Homo sapiens: one gene and its partners. The protein of the gene in region 1 purifies or fractionates together with the protein of each later gene. This does not show direct contact. Each region holds a gene or a part of one and is shown in the gene's direction. Other genes may lie near its edges.

Region 1 (5,585 bases):
GAAGACGTTCTAGGCTGAGAAGATCTTGAAGCAGGAAAGGGGAGGAGAGCAGCTTGGCTGAAGTGGAAGGTCCATGCCTGGGAGAAAGAAAGTTGGACTAGGGTGGGGTGAGCCTCAGATGCAGCTAGAACCTGTTTTATCTTCAAATAATAGGGTGCTGGGCTGGGCACTGTGGCTCATGCCTGTAATCCCAGCGACTCAGGAAGCTGGGGTGGGAGAACTGCTTGAGGCCAGGATTTCAAGACCAGCCTGGGCAACACAGCGAGACCCCATCTCTGAAAAAGTAAGAAATATTAGCTGGGCATGTTGGTGCACACCCATAGTCACAGCTGCTTGGGAGGCTGAGGTAAGAGGATCACTTGGGCCCAGGTGTTTGAGGCTGCAATGAGTCATTATCGTCCCATTGCACTCCAGCCTGGGAGACAGAGCAAGACCCTGACTCAATTAAAAATAAATAAATAGGAGCTATTGATGGTTCTTGAGTAGAAAAGTAAAGAGTGCCACAATGAAGGTGAAAGCAGTATCACAGTGTGATAAGTAGACAGGGGTCTGGAATCAATGGACTGATAGAAGAAACTGGGAGTACCTCTGATTGTGGAAGTCCACGTGTGATGGAATCAAGGCTCAGGCCAGACAGGAACCCAAATTATCTGCTTAAATGATTCACAAATGAGAATCACTTTGGGAGCTTTAAAGATGAGAACACGTTCGTGGGCCTTGCCCCCATTTGTGCATTTTCTCAACGTTTCCCAGGAGCTGATGATGCAGCACAGGCGTGGGAGCTTTAAACTAGTCCAACTCTTACACAAAGGGCAAATTTTCTTAGCGGACTAAGAAATGTAACTCAAAGAGGTTAAGTGACTGAACCAAAGTCACACTCCTAGTTAGTGACAGAGGAGAACCTAAGTTGGACCCTCCCGTCTGGACCCCGGGCTCCTTCCTCTAGGCTGGACCATTGCAGCACCCGACAGGGGCAACACTCCAGCGGAATCCCCTGCAACCTGCCCTTAGGCTGAGGCTTCCCTAGAGGGCCTTCCCTGTTTCTCCAGAGCCAGTGTTCACTAGTTCCCCAGACCCTGTAAACTCCATCGTGGTCTTCCTAAATGGGACTTCTCCTCAGGCTGTCCAGCAGGAAAGAAGGGAGTAGCAGGAATACGTGGGTACCCTGGTTCCGTGGCCACTAGAGGTAAGGTGGGCTGGGGGTAGGGGTTAGAGAGCAAGAGAAGCAGCCCAGGTGAGATGTCAAAGATCAAGTTTTCAAGGCCACCAGGGAAGGAGGCTCTAGTCCTAAGGTTAAAGTCAGCCAGGGCTCAGTTTGGGAAGCTCAGGTGTGTGGTGAGAAAGCTGCTGAGCTGCGGCCAGTTTGCAGTACCAAGGAGAGCTGCTGGACCAGAGATGGAGACTGAGGTCCCAGAAAGGCACTGCTGGAGCAGGAAGATCTGGGCCAGCCACCAAAGGGATGTGAACCTGGAGCGAAGCAGGAGGACTGAAACTTGGGCAACCTTCCTCTTCAGGGGTGCTGGAGGGCTCCTGGGCACATCCAGGCCGGGGAAGAAGCCCCCGGGAGCCGTGTGGTGTTCACACGCATCACAGGTTCAGGAGAATGCAGGAGGGGGCCTGAGAAGAGCTGCGGATTTGGTCACTCCCGGGAAGCGTTAGGTAGAGTGGAGAGCAGAGCCAGACCGCGGGGCTCCAGGAAGTGGAGATCCTGTGGTTAAATAGACGTTGCCGCACGTGGAGCTCAATAGACAATTCTTGTTTTGACTTTCCAGGAGAGGAGTGGATGATTCGGAAGGTGAAGGTGGAGGACGAAGATCAGGAGGCAGAAGAGGAGGTCGAATGGCCCCAGCATCTATCGTTACTTCCCAGCCCCTTTCCCGCGCCTGACCTGGGGCATCTGGCTGCCGCGTACAAACTGGAGCCAGGGGCCCCGGGGGCACTGAGTGGGCTCGCGCTGTCTGGGTGGGGTCCGATGCCGGAGAAGCCCTACGGCTGCGGGGAGTGTGAGCGGCGCTTCCGGGACCAGCTGACGTTGCGACTGCACCAGCGGCTGCACCGGGGCGAGGGCCCCTGCGCCTGCCCGGACTGCGGCCGCAGCTTCACGCAGCGCGCCCACATGCTACTGCATCAGCGCAGCCACCGCGGCGAGCGGCCTTTCCCGTGCTCCGAGTGCGACAAGCGCTTCAGCAAGAAGGCCCATCTGACCCGCCACCTGCGCACGCACACGGGCGAGCGGCCCTACCCGTGCGCGGAGTGCGGCAAGCGCTTCAGCCAGAAGATCCACCTGGGCTCGCACCAAAAGACCCACACCGGCGAGCGGCCCTTCCCCTGCACGGAATGCGAGAAGCGCTTTCGCAAGAAGACGCACTTGATTCGGCACCAGCGCATCCATACGGGCGAGAGGCCCTACCAGTGCGCACAGTGCGCACGCAGCTTCACGCACAAGCAGCACTTGGTGCGGCACCAAAGGGTGCACCAGACGGCCGGCCCGGCCAGGCCCTCTCCCGACTCGTCCGCTTCTCCTCATTCCACTGCCCCGTCCCCGACCCCATCCTTTCCCGGGCCAAAGCCTTTCGCGTGCTCCGACTGCGGCTTGAGCTTCGGCTGGAAAAAGAACCTCGCCACGCACCAGTGTCTGCACCGCAGCGAGGGTCGCCCCTTTGGGTGCGATGAGTGCGCACTGGGCGCCACCGTGGATGCCCCCGCCGCCAAGCCCCTGGCCAGCGCGCCTGGCGGACCGGGCTGCGGCCCAGGATCCGATCCCGTGGTGCCCCAGCGCGCCCCCTCGGGCGAGCGGTCCTTCTTCTGCCCGGACTGCGGGCGCGGCTTCTCCCATGGGCAGCACCTGGCGCGGCACCCGCGCGTGCACACGGGCGAACGGCCCTTCGCCTGCACGCAGTGTGACCGCCGCTTCGGCTCGCGGCCTAATCTGGTCGCCCACTCCAGGGCCCACAGCGGCGCCAGGCCTTTCGCCTGCGCTCAGTGCGGCCGCCGCTTCAGCCGCAAGTCGCACCTGGGCCGCCACCAGGCGGTGCACACTGGCAGCCGCCCCCACGCCTGCGCCGTCTGCGCCCGCAGCTTCAGCTCCAAAACCAACCTAGTCCGCCACCAGGCGATCCACACAGGCTCCCGCCCCTTCTCCTGCCCGCAGTGCGGAAAGAGCTTCAGCCGCAAGACCCACCTGGTGCGGCACCAGCTCATTCACGGCGAAGCCGCCCACGCGGCCCCGGACGCCGCCCTTGCGGCCCCAGCCTGGTCCGCTCCCCCCGAGGTGGCGCCGCCCCCGCTCTTCTTCTGAGCCTAGTTCTCACGAGGACCCTTTCTTGCCCACAGTTTCGAGAGGCCCGTGCCATGAGACCGCCTGGGGTGAGCAAGGCGACCTGGGCTGCTGCCCGAAGGTTTGGCCGCCGCGGGACACCTGTTTCCTTCCCGCAGTGTCTGCGTCCGCACAGCATACCCAGCTCGGACCTCCTAGGACAGAGACTCAGCGAACCCTTGCTGGGAACCGCTGAGCTGAAGTTCTTGGAAGGCTCCCACCCAGGTGCCCCGTTGGAAAGCAGATATTTCCCGGACCCAGCGCGGCCTCAACCAGGGCAGGAAAGAGTGGTTATTTATGTACTTAAAGTTTCATTAAAGTTAAAATCGGAAAGTTCTGGGGCTGCTAAATGAATTGGGGGAGGGAACACCTGACTCTCCTTAGCCACTGTCCCACCTCCATCCACACACAGACCACCCCCCTCCACTTCCCCTTCTGTCCTGGGTGAGTTACATTTAGCCAGCTGCTGTTAATTGGTTCTCCCAAATAAAAATGTAATATATTTATTCACTAAGCCACCATCCTGGCTCCTGCTTCTAGCTCGGAAGTATAAGGAAGGAAGATTGGGGTGCATTTCTCTCACGCCACGTGTCACCGACTAGAGCTGAAGGGGGGCAGGCCGTCCTTTGGCGTGGGCTTGGGAGCTCTGTGTGGTCTCCGCAACTCTCCTGGGGGATTCGGAGCTCGGTGGCGTGAGGAAGGAGGTGGCACATCCACTGCAGATGAAGGTTGCTTTCACATCGCACTTGCAACAAGTCCTTTCTTAAGGCTGCTGGGTCCAGAAGTCTCTGTATTGCCCTTCTCCAGCCCACGCAGGTATGAGAGCTAGGGCTGCCTGGCCGTGAACGGGGAGGGTAGGACGATGGGGAGCCTATGGAGCTTGCAGTGAGTAGTCTTGGGTTTGACCCCCCTCTGCCTCTCGTGGGACTTGGAGCGCAGCATTATTCATTTCCCAGTGAGCGGGGATGAGAGGCCAGAGCAGTGGCCTGAGAGATGAAGGGGTCTTTCACACCTGTGAAGCAGTTTAGACCGTGTCCAAGGGAGGGGGAACCATGGCAAGGTTAGGCGGGGCAGGAACAGGGCCACGCTCACATTCCTGAAGTTTGGAAAGATGTTTGGCTAGACAACTCGGGAGCGAAATTGGAGGCCTGCGCATCAGTTGTCCTGGTGACAGGTTGTGGTGACCTGGGACCATAGTTGTGTCAGAGGAGACAGAGAAGTGATGGATTCAAGAGACACTTAATAGGCAGAGGATACAGGACCTGTTGACTAGTGTGGGTCGGGGAATCAATGAGCTCAGCCCGATTTCTGTTTGACACTGACTGGATGACAGTGGCATACTCCCAGAAGGGAGACTCGGTGTTGGGGGCAGCTTTGTGCTGGGGGAGTAGTCCTGGGTCTCCTGAGTTGTGAGCAGTGTGTGCCCAGCAGGAAGGAGGCTGTGTGGGTGGAGAGCTCAGGAGAGGGCCAGGCTGCAGACATACAGCTGAGAACTATCCGCATGTGCTTCTGAAGCTATGGGGGAGCGGATGATCTTCCCAAAGAACTGAGTGTGGAGTGAGAAATTGGGGGCCTGGGACAGAAGCCTCTGGGACACCAACATTAGGGGATGGCACCGAGAGAGGCCTGTAAACAAGATTGGAGAGTGCAGGTGCAAGGACTGGACAGGAAAGCCCCAGGTAGAGGTGATAGAGGAGCCGAGGAAAGACGCGCTTCAGGGAGGAGGAGGCCGCTGGAGGCTAGAGAGAGGTCACCTAGGCGAAGGGCTTCCAAACCCTTTGGATGTCGCTGCAAGCAAATCCAGTCTCGGTGACAGCAGCATCAGGAGCAGCTGGGTCAGAATTCAGATCACAATGGTGAACTACAAAAGCAAAATCCCAGAGAAGGTAGGAGACAATGAGACCTGGACACAGGTGAGGGAGGGGCGTTGGCTGGGAGGCCTGTCAGAGGATGCATGAATGCAGGCGTGTTTATAAGTTTCGTGGCCAAGAATGAGTTGGTGACTCCAGGTTATTTTAAATATCTTGAAATGTCACATAAAAATCTGGACTTCCATCTTCTGTTGTGAAAAAAGCAAAAGGTTTGGCAACTGGTGGCTGGAGCTGAGTGGAAGTTGTCCTCTTTGGACTAAGGGATCGGAGTCCTCAGCACTCCCCCTCGTCTTAAAGCCCAACTGGGCTTCTCCAAGGTTCCCTACCCAGCCTCTTAGGCACAGAGCTTGTGATTCCAGCTAAAAAAAAAGTCATTTCACAGACTTTTAAAATCAAAC
Region 2 (4,157 bases), on another chromosome or scaffold:
GTATTATTAACATGGTAGAAGAGAATTTTTCAGAAATATATGTAATCTTTGCTGTTTGGGGGGTAAAATTAATGCTTGTCTCCCTGAGGAATATGGAAAATAATCAGATTTTAGGGGTTTAAATAATATTTTTAAATTGTAAATGGGATTTTTTTATTCACCCAGGCACCTAATTACAACAAGCATGCACATTTTGGTGCATTCAAGAATGGAAAATCAGAATAGCAGCATTGATTCTTCTGGTGGGTTTTGCTCCATTTAAAGACATGAAATGAACTACAGCCAGGAAGGTGATAGATGATATAATAAGCCACCTCTGAACCTACACCCCGTCTCTTCACGGTTTAGACTTACTAAAATAAATACAAGGTGATTTTCATCTTCAGGTAGAGTGAAGCCTTTTAATTAAGGCGTCACAGGTGCAGCTATTCTACCTTAATGAAATGGGTAGTGATTTTCCCACCATTATTTATTTCGGTGATAATATGCTGCATATTCAAGTCTCTTGTAGTTATTTTCACCCAAAGTAGTTGACAATTTGATGCTTCTGGTGATGTTTATGGCTTCATTTTATGTAATTTTTTAAGTAAGTTCCACTAGAAACAGTTCATCTTATACCTTCAAAACTGTTACCTGTTCTTTAAAAAACAAAGTTGCTTGTTACTTGTTCTTTGTGTTTTAGGTGCAGCTCAGTGGAAGATGATGACAACCAGAAGACATGAGCTAAGGTTTCTGTCCTATAAAAGATTTATTAAAAAACAATCCTTCATTTATTTTTTGTCTAATTTTTTAGTTTTCAGCATTATGATTTGGGTTTTATTGGTGTTTGGTATTTAGAATTAGTGCTGTTGTGGAGTGCGTCTGTAAAGTGCTTGTTTTATCATACTTCCTGCCTCTCCCCTCCCCCAGTTTCTCCTCCCCTAAAATAAAAATAGTGGTCAACTTTAGTAATATAAAAGGCTGCTGGATGCTGAGATTCCACATAACACATGGTTGTCAAAATTGGATGTTAAGGATTCTTAGAAAAACAGCAACCACCAGAATAGCATATATCTGAAAGTAGTCTTCAGCTTTAGGCAGATGCAAAAGAATACAAACTGGAATATTAAGAATACTGTTCAACTCCTTTAGTATCTGTTCCCCAACTTACCCTGTAGAAACCTCGTTATTAACCAGTGTTCCAGTCTTAAAGTAGACAAAATATTCAGAGCCATTTTTTTTAAGGGAAATGAAAAAGATACTCTGGGTTTTTTATACTCCCCAATTTAGCATATCTAGACTACCTATTTGAAAGGAACCCTATCAACTGTCTTATGTACGTTACATGATTTTCCTACACTCTGTAATTTTGCTGAGGTGCAATTTGGAACTCTGCAAGACCTACTAGATTGAATTTATTTAGTGAATGCTCCTGAATAAATGTGCATTCCTCTTTTAGAGTAGCTGTATGCTTTTCAAATGCTATCTGCCGTGAATTTTTTGCTTTTATTATACTTTATGGCAAAAGTGATATCAAGTGATTGTCAGACTTGAGGGCTCATAGAAGTGTTAGGTACGGCTCTCAAAGATGTTACAGTTTTTTCTAGGGTTGGGAGAATAGTTGAGATCTGGAAAGCATAGACATTTTTTACACTCTGGATAGACTTTATTCTTGAAGATCATCAGAAATGAGGTTGGAATTTCGAGGTTTTGAGCAGGGGGAGCATCTTATATTCACCCTTAAATCGTTATTAATACATCCTGTTTTCTTCATTCCCTGATAGCTATCTCATTTCACTCTACTGTCTCAAAATTTTGTTTTAAAATAATAGAAATGTTTTGCCATTATTAAGTACCACTTTATTCCTAACAAAAATAAGTACTCAGGACTTTTTTTTCAAAATGAAATATTTATGTACTGTTTTATGGTATGTGGTAGAGTAAGTAAAATGTAATGTTCTCAGTTTTGTTCCATATTTGCATTCCTCTTATGCTTTACCTGTATTTTATCATTTGTAAGCAGAACTCTAGCTATATGGGGTAGAAATAAAATCTCTGAGATGAAACAAAGGAATCAACATGATAAAATTTAGGCGAAGTAGTTAAGAAATGGCCCTTTTGAATGTTGAAGATAGGAAAGAAAGCCATATATTCAAATATGTAATTTTCCTCATTTAGTTATAATGACATCTTTACCAATTGGGCTTCATAAATGTGTTTCTTTCTTAATAGTATCCTAGTTCCAGCATATATTCAACATGAATTTTATCATTCTCCTCCTAATGGAATGTCTTCCTTATAGAAATGTTCACGACAAATTCATTTGTGTTTTTTACATGTCAATAATGTATGCTAAATTAAAATGTTTTCCAGTTATTCTGATAGATGTCATTATGGCATCCTTAATTTTTCTTCTCCTTCTGTATATAGGGTAAGGGACTGTTCTGAAGAACCTTTCCATTTAGTGATCAAGATATGGAAGCTGATTTCTGAAAATGCTCAGTGTGTACTCTAATTATTTATGGTACCATTTGAATTGTAACTTGCATTTTAGCAGTGCATGTTTCTAATTGACTTACTGGGAAACTGAATAAAATATGCCTCTTATTATCATATTGTCTCCTGGTTTTTTTCTTTGGTTGAGTTCAGATTTTCCTCACAAACATCAAAACATTTTCAAAGCATTAGGTGCACAACACCAAAGAGTGTATTATATTCGTGTTCCTGTTACATACATTTCTGCTTTGGTTTTCCTAGTAAAGGAAACAGATAAGTAATGAGCCAACTCCTGTTTTTATAATGATAAAAATAAATTGGTTCATTGCTCACATGATAGCTTGACAAATCTTGGGCTCTTATCCTCAGTATACCCACTCTTTATTTTCTTCTTTTAAGGAACTGTTTTTGGCTTTTCAAAACAGTGAGTAAAATAGATTCACAGTGTAGTTTGTGAATCTTAGTGCATGCAAAGCAGATAAGGCAGGCAGAATGGCCTTGTAGAATGCACCCACCCACCCCATTGGAGCTAACCACCGCAGAGTGGCAGGTAGAAGCTAGTATGCTTGATTCTGGGCTGAGAAATGGTCAAATGGCACTGGCTCTGGATAGTCTTCATGTAAAGGCCCCAGTTATAATTTTGTTAGACTGCATAACTATCTAAAGTGGCTATGAGGTTATTGTATCTGGTACATTTTAGGGAAAATAGTATGCAGGATGTATTGGTTAAGGACCTTTCACACATACTTTTTTTCTTTCTTTTTTTCTTTTTTTTGAGACGGACTCGCCGTCTATCGCCAGGCTGGAGTGCAGTGGCACGATCACAGCTCGCCTCCGCCTCCTGACCTCAGGTGATCCACACGCCTGAGCCTCCCAAAGTGCTGGGATTACAGGCATGAGCCACCACACCCGGCCACACATACTTTCTCTAATTAGAAAGATTCAACCTCATGAAGATCCAGTGAGCTGAGGACCATCAATGACTGGAGAGCTAAACATGGGTATTTATCAGCAAACTAGGTTTTCCCGAACAGAATTTATATGTGTGTTATAAACTGCCAAATGTTTTCTTATTTAAAGATAATGGTGGGCGTTGACTTCCACCAAGTATGAAAAATAGCCAAATATTTTGTATTCATGTCTCCAGTTTTGTCCACTACATATGTAGACAAGTGGGTCCCACTTCACCTGTTTGAACCAGGTCTTTTTCCCCTGTCAGTCTACAGGATAAATTTGAGATGATACATCTCTAATCCCTACAAAACTTGCCACTTCTGGTCTCAGTCCCATCTCCCATGCCCATTCCCACGCCTAGTCTTACTGAAAGGGTTTGTGTCTGTTGCACCGTACCATTTCCCTGTGCCTTGGCACATGCCCTGCAAGAAACAGGACATTGTTAGGAATTATTGTTCTGCACCTAACTAGTGCTAAGGAGGTCCATTCTCGAGATGGTTTGCCCTCCTGTGTCATTCTTACTTCCCTAATGTATTTTGTGAATACTTGTATATGCCAGGCACTTTTGCTGCTGGTCATTTAACCCGCACATGATTATATGAGATAAAGACAGTCTACCCACTTTACCCATCAGAAAAGTGAAGCAAGAGAGGTTAAGGAAACTGCTAAAGGTGTTAGGTGTTCAGTGGCAGGAGTCTGGGTTCGAATTTAGACAGCCTAGCGACAGA
Region 3 (4,565 bases), on another chromosome or scaffold:
TTTTAATTTATTAATGATAAAATGAGAGCAACACCTTCACTTGAAAACTGGTAAGAGTTTGGTGATAGTGTGTTGGGGGAGGTATTGTTTTCATCAGAGTGGTGTACTTTCCTCTGACATTTCTTCAGCTTTTTTTCTATAGAAATGGGCTCATTCAGATTTTCTATCTTTTTGGAGTCAAAATTTTAACAAATTGCATGTTTTTTATTTCTCCCATCTCTTTGTATACTTTGTGTATGTTTTCCAACCAATGACTACACTATGATGGAAGAAATTATTTATGATGTTTATTAAGGAGGTTGAAATGATAGTTTGTTTCTACCTTGTTTTGTAATGGCTTCAAAGTAAAATAAATAGAACAAAGACAAGTTGAAATCTTTCCTGTTAGGTAAGCCAGTTTTGGCAATTTACCCTCTATATGTAACCACAAAGTACAGAATTTTGATAATTATTATGTAAAATTAACAAAATTTTTCTTTGGTTTTAAAAGAGTTAATTTAAATTGCATTGTGGTTCTTTATAATAGAAAGTTAGTGAAAATAAAATTTTAATGAGAGTAATTATAGAATAGAAAGTCTTAAAGAATATACAACATTTTATGTCTCAGTCATATAACCAGTATTGGTCGACTCAGTGGATTATGTAATACAACCCTAGAAGGAGCCATAGACTGTCTACTTGGAGCCCATTATTTTTGTGGATTGAAATTGAACAAGGTTAAATGACATCCTTTTGTTATCACGAGTAATAAATATATTGTCTTTGCAGCTTCCAAAGCATAAATCAGTGGTTGTAACACTAAATGATTCAGATGATAGTGAATCTGATGGAGAGGCTTCCAAGTCAACAAATAGTGTTTTTGGTGGATTAGAGTCCATGATTAAAGAAGCAAGACGAACTGCTGAGGTAAGTGCAATAATTAAAGGTGGAAAGAAAGATGACCTTTTGATGATCAGTAAAGTTTATTTTTTCCTGAAAATTAAACCATAAAGTTATAGATTTTTAATAACATTGATTTGTGGAAATATTTTAAGTATTTGTGCTATTAGGACTTTATATAATGAAGCATGTATCAATGTAGATTGATTTTACTATTAAAAGTTTCCATTATTTGTGTTTCCTATTAAGTATTTCCTTTTTCAAAATAGTAAAATTGGTTGGATAATTGTTCTGTGTAGTAAGGAGACTGTTGTTTTAGAGTTGTGTTGTGTTACCAGAAAACAGTTTTTATTAAAATGTATTCTCTAAGTACAACTTTTATCGTTTTTTCCCTATTTCAGTAGTTGTTTAGCTGTGATTTAATTCAATGATTTTCAGACTGTAGATCTTCACTACTTGGTGGCGTATACAATTTAGTAGTTATCAACCAACATTGTTTTAGAAAAAAGAATAGAAAATGATGACATTCAGGTATTTCTAAATAAATTCAGTATACACTGGGTTGCAATGTAAAATATAAATCTTAGTATGGAATTTTGGAAAGCTGATGATCTAGTTGACTTCAAATGTTTTTTTTTTTTTAGCAAGCTTCAAAACCGAAAGTACCTCCAAAATCTGAAAAAGAAAATGATCCTCTGCGAACACCGGAGGCTTTGCCTGAAGAAAAGAAGATTGAATATAGATTGTTAAAGGAAGAGATTGCCAAGTAAGTGTAATTTTATGTAATTAACATTAAAAGTATGTGATGTTTTCAAAACTTCTCTTATAGAGTTTCTTGGCACTGGGGAATGAGTGATGATAGTTTTATCCAAGATACAGAGTTAATGTTTTATAACTCACACAGAAGATGGTGCTGGATGGTCATACATACACTTGAATAGAGTGATGTGCTAGGACATAACCAGCTTAGAAAAAAGATGAAAACACTCAAAGAGAAGGACTCCACTATCAACTTTGAATGCTGACTTGGGTCTTGCATATTGGTCATCATCTTTATTATTAGTCGGTGTGATTAATATTGTTACTGCATGAAATAGAATACATTTTAAAAATAGTTTAAGTTTATTCTTGGGTGTAATGCATATATCCTTTTTGATAATTTTAGCCGTGAGAAACAGCGTTTGATTAAATCAGATCAGCTGAAGACAAGTTCATCATCCCCAGCAAACTCTGATGTGGAAATTGATGGTATTGGCAGGATAGCAATGGTTACTAAGCAGGTTACAGATGCAGAATCAAAACTGAAAAAACATAGGTGAGCCTTGTTATCTTCACATATCTAATTGTTCCTGTGGTAGAGAAATACATTTTTGTGGTGTATGTTATTAATAAGCGTACTATAAGATTATACATTTTCTCACTTAAACTTTGTAGAATGTAGAAGTCTGTCATTTTGTTGAATGACACTACATTTACATAAAGTAATGAAATTAATGTTTAAATAAAAATACCGGCCAGGCGCGGTGGCTCACGCCTATAATCATAGCAATTTGAGAGGCCGAGGTGGGTGGATCACTTGAGATCAGGAGTTTGAGACTAGCCTGGCCAACACGGTGAAACCCTGTCTCTACTAAAAATACAAAAAAATTAGCTGGGCATGGTGGTGCATGCCTTGTAATCCCAGCTACTTGGGAGGCTGAGGCGGGAGAATCGCTTGAACTAGGGAAATGCATTCCCACTGTGCCTGGCCCAACGTTGAATATTTACTACAAGTTTTCAACAGTAATTCACGTTACCTCAGGCTTAAATTTTTTTTTTTAAAAGATCAGTCTCATAGTTACTATTATCAGTGTAGCAATGTTAATTTAAATACCTGTGTGATGAATATAAAAATATTCATCCCTTTACATTTTTATCTGTGTCTCGTAGATGCATTTTTAAAAATTGTGTTATTACTTTGAAAATTTTTTTATTCTGACAGTCTGCTCTTGTAGGGAAACATTAACAAGAATTTTGTTATTTCTCATTTAGGATTCTCTTGATGAAAGATGAATCTGTTTTAAAGAATTTAGTGCAACAAGAAGCTAAGAAGAAAGAATCTGTTAGAAATGCTGAAGCAAAGATTACAAAACTTACAGAACAGCTTCAAGCAACTGAAAAAATTCTTAATGTTAACAGAATGTTTTTGAAGAAGCTTCAGGAACAAGTAATTATTTTAAAATACTGTAGTCTCCTGTTTACTACACATTTTTATAGGCCAAATTTTCTGTAAGACAAACCACTGTATACTAAAGCCAGCAAAATATGCATAACCTATAGTTTCTTGTTGAGAAATAATATTGGAATATTTTTATTTTCAGTTGAATGCTCAAAAGCCACGGTGTTTGAGAAGAAGAAATTTCCTGTTTTAAGGTTTTCATTTACATTTTCAGGATTATTCTATATTTTTCAGATTCACAGAGTTCAACAGCGTGTTACAATTAAGAAAGCTTTGACTCTAAAATATGGAGAAGAGCTTGCTCGGGCAAAGGCAGTGGCCAGTAAAGAAATAGGAAAACGTAAACTGGAACAAGATCGCTTTGGGGTGAGGGTTTTATAGAAATATTTTACTTTTGGAAAGCAGAAAGTTTTTATGATAGTTTTAAGGGTAAGATGTATATATAAAGTAACTCTTTGCTGTAAATTCCAAGAGATTAAGATTAAAGCTTTGTTTTTAAATGACATCCACATTTTTGGATGTCTACTTTATTATTTTGTCTTGACTTTGTTTTTGTCATAAGTCATAGATTAACTAGCAAAACTTTTGGCTACTTATGTTAAACTCTGTTTTATTCTCCATATTGATTTAGTTTTATAATGTTGGCATTGTATGGTGGGGATAGCACAATTATCTTACCAAAAATTGTTTATAAAATCACAGTGATGTAAAATACGTGTATCATTTTTCTCCCTTAGCCAAACAAAATGATGAGACTGGACAGTTCTCCAGTATCAAGTCCAAGAAAGCATTCAGCAGAACTAATTGCTATGGAGAAAAGACGGTTACAAAAGCTAGAATATGAATATGCCCTGAAAATTCAAAAATTAAAAGAAGCCCGTGCCCTTAAAGCAAAGGAACAACAAAATATCTCTCCAGTTGTGGAAGAGGAACCCGAATTTTCTTTACCTCAACCCTCACTTCATGATCTGACACAAGATAAATTAACCCTGGACACTGAAGAAAATGATGTTGATGATGAAATTTTGTCTGGTTCAAGCAGAGAGCGAAGAAGATCTTTTTTAGAATCCAATTATTTTACTAAACCTAACCTTAAGCACACTGATACTGCTAACAAAGAATGCATAAACAAACTTAATAAAAATACTGTAGAAAAACCAGAACTTTTTCTAGGGTTAAAAATTGGTGAATTGCAAAAATTGTATTCAAAAGCTGACAGCCTAAAACAGCTGATTTTAAAAACCACCACAGGCATTACAGAGAAGGTTTTGCATGGTCAGGTAACTGAACATTTCATATTTTCTTTAAAATCTGGAATTCACCCAGCCTTATTTGCCTTACAGAATTATTATTTTCTTTTGCAGGAGATTTCTGTAGATGTGGATTTTGTCACAGCACAAAGTAAAACAATGGAAGTGAAGCCATGTCCTTTTAGACCCTACCATAGTCCTCTTCTAGTTTTTAAGTC
Region 4 (4,565 bases), on another chromosome or scaffold:
CTGGAGATAAATTCGTAAATCACTCGTACCCTTTCAGAGAAGTAGTACAGATTTCCTCTCATTTTTTTTTTTTTTCTGTTTATTTTAGAGCAAACCTGTGCAACACACGGCCCACGGGCTGCCTGCGGCCCAACACAAATTCTTAAACTTTCTTAAAACATTATGAAATTTGTTTTGCATTTTTTTTAAGCTCATCTGCTATCGTTAGTGTATTTTATGTGTGGCCCAGGACAGTTCTTCTTCCAGTGTGGCCGAGGGAAGCCAAAAGATTGCAATTGCACAGCACTGTTTTAAAGGCTTCATATATTAAAAATAATAATAGCTAATATTTATGGAGAGTTTATCACAGTAAATACTTTGTGATATGGTTTGGCTCTGTGTCCTCACCCAAATCTCCTCTTGTAGCTCCCGTAATTCCCATGTGTTGTGGGAGGGACTCAGTGGGAGATGATTGAATCATGGGGGTGGGTCTTTCCTGTGCTGTTCTCATGATAGTGGATGGGTCTCACAAGATCTGATGGTTTTAAAAATGGGAGTTTACCTGCACAAGCTCTCTCTTTGCCTGTTGCCATCCACGTAGGATGTGACTTGCTCCTACTTGCCTTCCGTCATGATTGTGAGGCCTCCCCCAGCCATGTGGAACTGTGAGTCTAAACCTCTTTTGTAAATTGCCCAGTCTCGGGAATGTCTTTATGAGCAGCAGCATGAAAACGAGCTAATACACTTTGTTTTACAGCTTTGTTGAGATACAGTTGATGCTCAGTAAACTGCACATACTTAAAGTGTACAAATTACTGAGGATTTGTCTGTGTGTATATGTGTGTGTGTGTGTGTGTGTGTGTGTGTGTATGTGTTTGAGACATGGTCTCACTCTGTCACCCAGGCTGGAGTGCAGTGACACAAGCACAACTCAACAGCTCACTGCAGCCTTGACCTCCTGGGCTCAAGCAATCCTCCCACTTCAGCCTCTTGAGTAGGTGGAACTACAGGTGCACACCACCATGCCTGGCTGAGTTTTGTATTTTTTTGTAGAAATGGGATTTCACCATTTCTACATGGTGGTCTCAAACTCCCGGGCTTAAGCAATCTGCCCACCTCAGTCTCCCAAGATGCTGGGATTACAGGCAAGAGCCACCGCGTCCAGTTAACTGAGTTTTGACATATATGTGATTGCATGAAACCATTATCACAATCAAGAAAATAAACACTCATCGTCCTCAGGATTCCTCATGTTTCTTTGTAATCTGTCCCTTCCTTCCCCCTTTATCTATCTCAGACAACCACTAATCTGCTGTCACTGTAGATTATTTTTTATTTTTCAGAATTTTATATAAATGGAATCATACAATATGTACTTTTTTTTTGGTCTGGTATCTTTTACTTAGCATAATTATTTTGCAGTTCATCCATGTTGAGGTGTTTATCAGTAGTTTGCTCCTTTTTATTGCTGAATAGCATTCCATTTTCTGAATATACCAAATTTGTGAATCTATTCACCTGTTGATAGACTTTGGGTTTTTCCCTTTTTTGGCTCTTATACTGTAATAAAGCTTTTATGAACATTCATATGCAAGTGTTTGTGTGGATACACACTTCCATTTCTCTTGAGTAAAGACCTAGGAGTAGAATATCCGGGTCCTGTGTAGAATATCCGGGTCCTGTGGTAGACGTATATTATACTTTTTACAGAAATACCAAATTGTTTTATAAGATGACTGTGCCATATTACATTCCCACCAGCTGTATTTCAGAGCTCCCATTGCTCCACATGCTTGCTCAGACTTGGTATGGTCAGTCTTTTTAATTTTAGCCATCCTAGTGAATATGTAATGGTATCCTCTTGTGGTTTTTATTTGCATTTCCCTAATAGATAATAATACTGGACATACGATGTGCTTATTTGCCATCTTTGTATCTTCTTTGGGGAATTATTTGTTCAAATATTTTTAGTACTTTTACTTTTTTTGTCTTATTGAATTTTAAGAGATATTTATATGGTTCAGATGTGAGGCTTTGTCAGATACAGATTTTACAAATGTTTTCTCAGCTGTGGCTTACCTTTTTATTTTCTTAACAATGTCTTTGAAGAACAGAAGTTTCATGTTTATGAAGTGCAATTTATCAGTTTTTTCTTCTAGACTTTATGCTTTTTATGTCTTATTTTTAAAATATTTGCCAAACCAAGATCACTAAAAATTTGTTTTATTTATATATAATTTAATATATATTTATATATATAAATATATAATTTAATATATATATAAATATATAATTTAATATATATTTATATATAAATATATAATTTAATATATATTTATATATATAAATATATAATTTAATATATATTTATATATATAAATATATAATTTAATATATATATATTTATATATAAATATATAATTTAATATATATATAAATATATAATTTAATATATATTTATATATATAAATATATAATTTAATATATATATAAATATATAATTTAATATATATTTATATATATAATTTAATATATATTTATATATATAAATATATAATTTAATATATATTTATATATATAAATATATAATTTAATAATATATTTATATATATAAATATACAATTTAATATATATTTATATATATAAATATACAATTTAATATATATTTATATATATAAATATATAATTTAATATATGTTTATATATATAAATATATAATTTAATATATATATATAAATATATAATTTAATATATATATAAATATATAATTTAATATATATATATAAATATATAATTTAATATATATATAAATATATAATTTAATATATATATAAATATATAATTTAATATATATTTATATATATAAATATATAATTATGTATATATATAAATATATAATATATAAATAATATAAAATTATTTTATAATTTTAGCTTTTACATTTAGGTCTTTGATACATTTTGAGCTAATTCTTGCATATAGTGTGAGGTAAGGTTTAGGTTCTTTTTTTAACACCATTTTTTGAAAATACTGTCTTTTCCTCATTGAATTGCCTTAGTACTATTGTCAAAAATCAGTTGGTTTTATGTGTGTCGGTTTATTTCTGAACTTCCAATTCTGTTCTATTTATCTATAGGTCTATTGTTTCACCAACAGCCACCTGTATTTATTACTATAGACTGAAGACTGAAAAAGCCTTCATTTTTGCCTTCATTTTTGGAAAATATTGTGGCAGTATTTTGTTTTATTACTCTAAAAAAGTTGCTCCGCCATTTTCTCACTTGCATTGTTTCTGACAAACTTTTTGCATTGCAAAAAGTTTCTGACAAATCTTTTTTCATCCTTACCTTTGTTCTTTTTTCTCTGGCTGCTTTTGATACTTTCTACTGTTTTTGAGCAATTTCATCATGATGTGCTTACAGTAGCTTTGTTCGTGTTTCTTGTGTGTAGAATTCATTGAGCTTCTTGGATCTGTAGGTTTTCCTGTGCTTTTTGTTGTCTAATGTCTGAAAATTTTGTTTCATCTATTTTCTCTGTTTTTTAAATTGGTTTAAGGTAGGAGAATATGCCTGGTCCCTTAGACTCCATCTTTGTCGGAGTAGGAAGTTTCAGGATTCTTCTTAACCATTAAATTATGTGGTTGTTTTGAGGAATTTTTGGAGAGAGAAAGTAAGTCATTGTATTGTTAGTATTGCCTTTGGTTTTTTGTTTGTTTGTTTTTTGAGACAAGAGTTTCGCTCCTGGTGCCCAGGCTGGAGTGCAGTGGCGTGATCTCGGCTCACTGCAAGCTCCACCTCCCAGGCTCAAGCGATTCTCCTGCCTCAGCCTGACGAGTAGCTGGAATTACAGGCGCCCGCTACCATGCCCAGCTAATTTTTTGTATTTTTAATAGAGACTGGGTTTCATCATGTTGTCCAGGCTGGTCTCGAACTCCTGAACTCAGGTGATTCACCTGCCTTGGCCTCCTAACCTTTGGGTTTTCTTATAGGTAAACACTGGTTATTTCCATACTTCATTGGCATAGTGGAAAGTTCATGGGATTGAGCATCAAATAGTCTAGTGACCAAATCTCAGATATGCCACCTACTAGCTTTGTGACCTTAAGCTTGCTGTTAAACCTTTTTTAGCTTCAACTTTCTCATCTGCAGCATGGGAATAATAGTTCTCTTCTGTGGATATTGCAAAGATGGATAGAAATGGATGTAAAGAGCCTGGCATAATCCCAGTAGCCAGTAATAGTTGCTATTTTAATTATTCCCCTTCCAGTCATCTTATTAAGAGACATATGAGGTAATTTCAGCGTCCAGGCAGAAAGAGCTATTTTTAGTTAGAGATAATGAAGTTTTGAAATTCTTTAATCTCTAACAATTTTTTTAAAAAGGAAGATTGCCTTCCTTGCTATTGTGACGTAACTATTTACTTTACACATGTAACTTACTTGATGTTACCATAGTTAATCATAACATAGACAAAACTCAACAAGTAAGCAAAAAGTGGCTTACAGCCAAAGTGACTTTTTAGTCCATACAAAGTATAAGTACGGAGATCAGTGGTAGAAGCAGGCCCACTGACAACTGTAAGAAGTA

What was found. Proteins that work in one complex are often made in the same cells at the same time.
Region 2: the proteins of ZNF467 (region 1) and PRP4K purify together in Homo sapiens (affinity purification with mass spectrometry; one large-scale study listed by BioGRID and IntAct). This does not show direct contact.
Region 3: the proteins of ZNF467 (region 1) and ZFC3H1 purify together in Homo sapiens (affinity purification with mass spectrometry; one large-scale study listed by BioGRID and IntAct). This does not show direct contact.
Region 4: the proteins of ZNF467 (region 1) and TFB1M purify together in Homo sapiens (affinity purification with mass spectrometry; one large-scale study listed by BioGRID and IntAct). This does not show direct contact.

What each region holds. Positions count from the first base shown.
Region 1 is NC_000007.14:149,762,427-149,768,011, reverse strand, and holds the end of ZNF467 (zinc finger protein 467), read left to right. Parts: intron 1-1,772; coding exon 1,773-3,298; 3' UTR 3,299-3,333; coding exon of another isoform or gene 3,334-3,512; 3' UTR 3,513-3,830; downstream 3,831-5,585. UniProt on the Homo sapiens protein: Transcription factor that promotes adipocyte differentiation and suppresses osteoblast differentiation in the bone marrow. Enhances the osteoclast-supporting ability of stromal cells.
Region 2 is NC_000006.12:4,062,392-4,066,548, forward strand, and holds the end of PRP4K (serine/threonine-protein kinase PRP4 homolog), read left to right. Parts: 3' UTR 1-2,592; downstream 2,593-4,157. UniProt on the Homo sapiens protein: Serine/threonine kinase involved in spliceosomal assembly as well as mitosis and signaling regulation. Connects chromatin mediated regulation of transcription and pre-mRNA splicing.
Region 3 is NC_000012.12:71,631,784-71,636,348, reverse strand, and holds part of ZFC3H1 (zinc finger C3H1 domain-containing protein), read left to right. Parts: intron 1-768; coding exon 769-906; intron 907-1,523; coding exon 1,524-1,645; intron 1,646-2,044; coding exon 2,045-2,194; intron 2,195-2,910; coding exon 2,911-3,085; intron 3,086-3,331; coding exon 3,332-3,463; intron 3,464-3,834; coding exon 3,835-4,377; intron 4,378-4,461; coding exon 4,462-4,565. UniProt on the Homo sapiens protein: Subunit of the trimeric poly(A) tail exosome targeting (PAXT) complex, a complex that directs a subset of long and polyadenylated poly(A) RNAs for exosomal degradation. The RNA exosome is fundamental for the degradation of RNA in eukaryotic nuclei.
Region 4 is NC_000006.12:155,303,420-155,307,984, reverse strand, and holds part of TFB1M (dimethyladenosine transferase 1, mitochondrial), read left to right. Parts: intron 1-4,565. UniProt on the Homo sapiens protein: Mitochondrial methyltransferase which uses S-adenosyl methionine to dimethylate two highly conserved adjacent adenosine residues (A1583 and A1584) within the loop of helix 45 at the 3-prime end of 12S rRNA, thereby regulating the assembly or stability of the small subunit of the mitochondrial ribosome.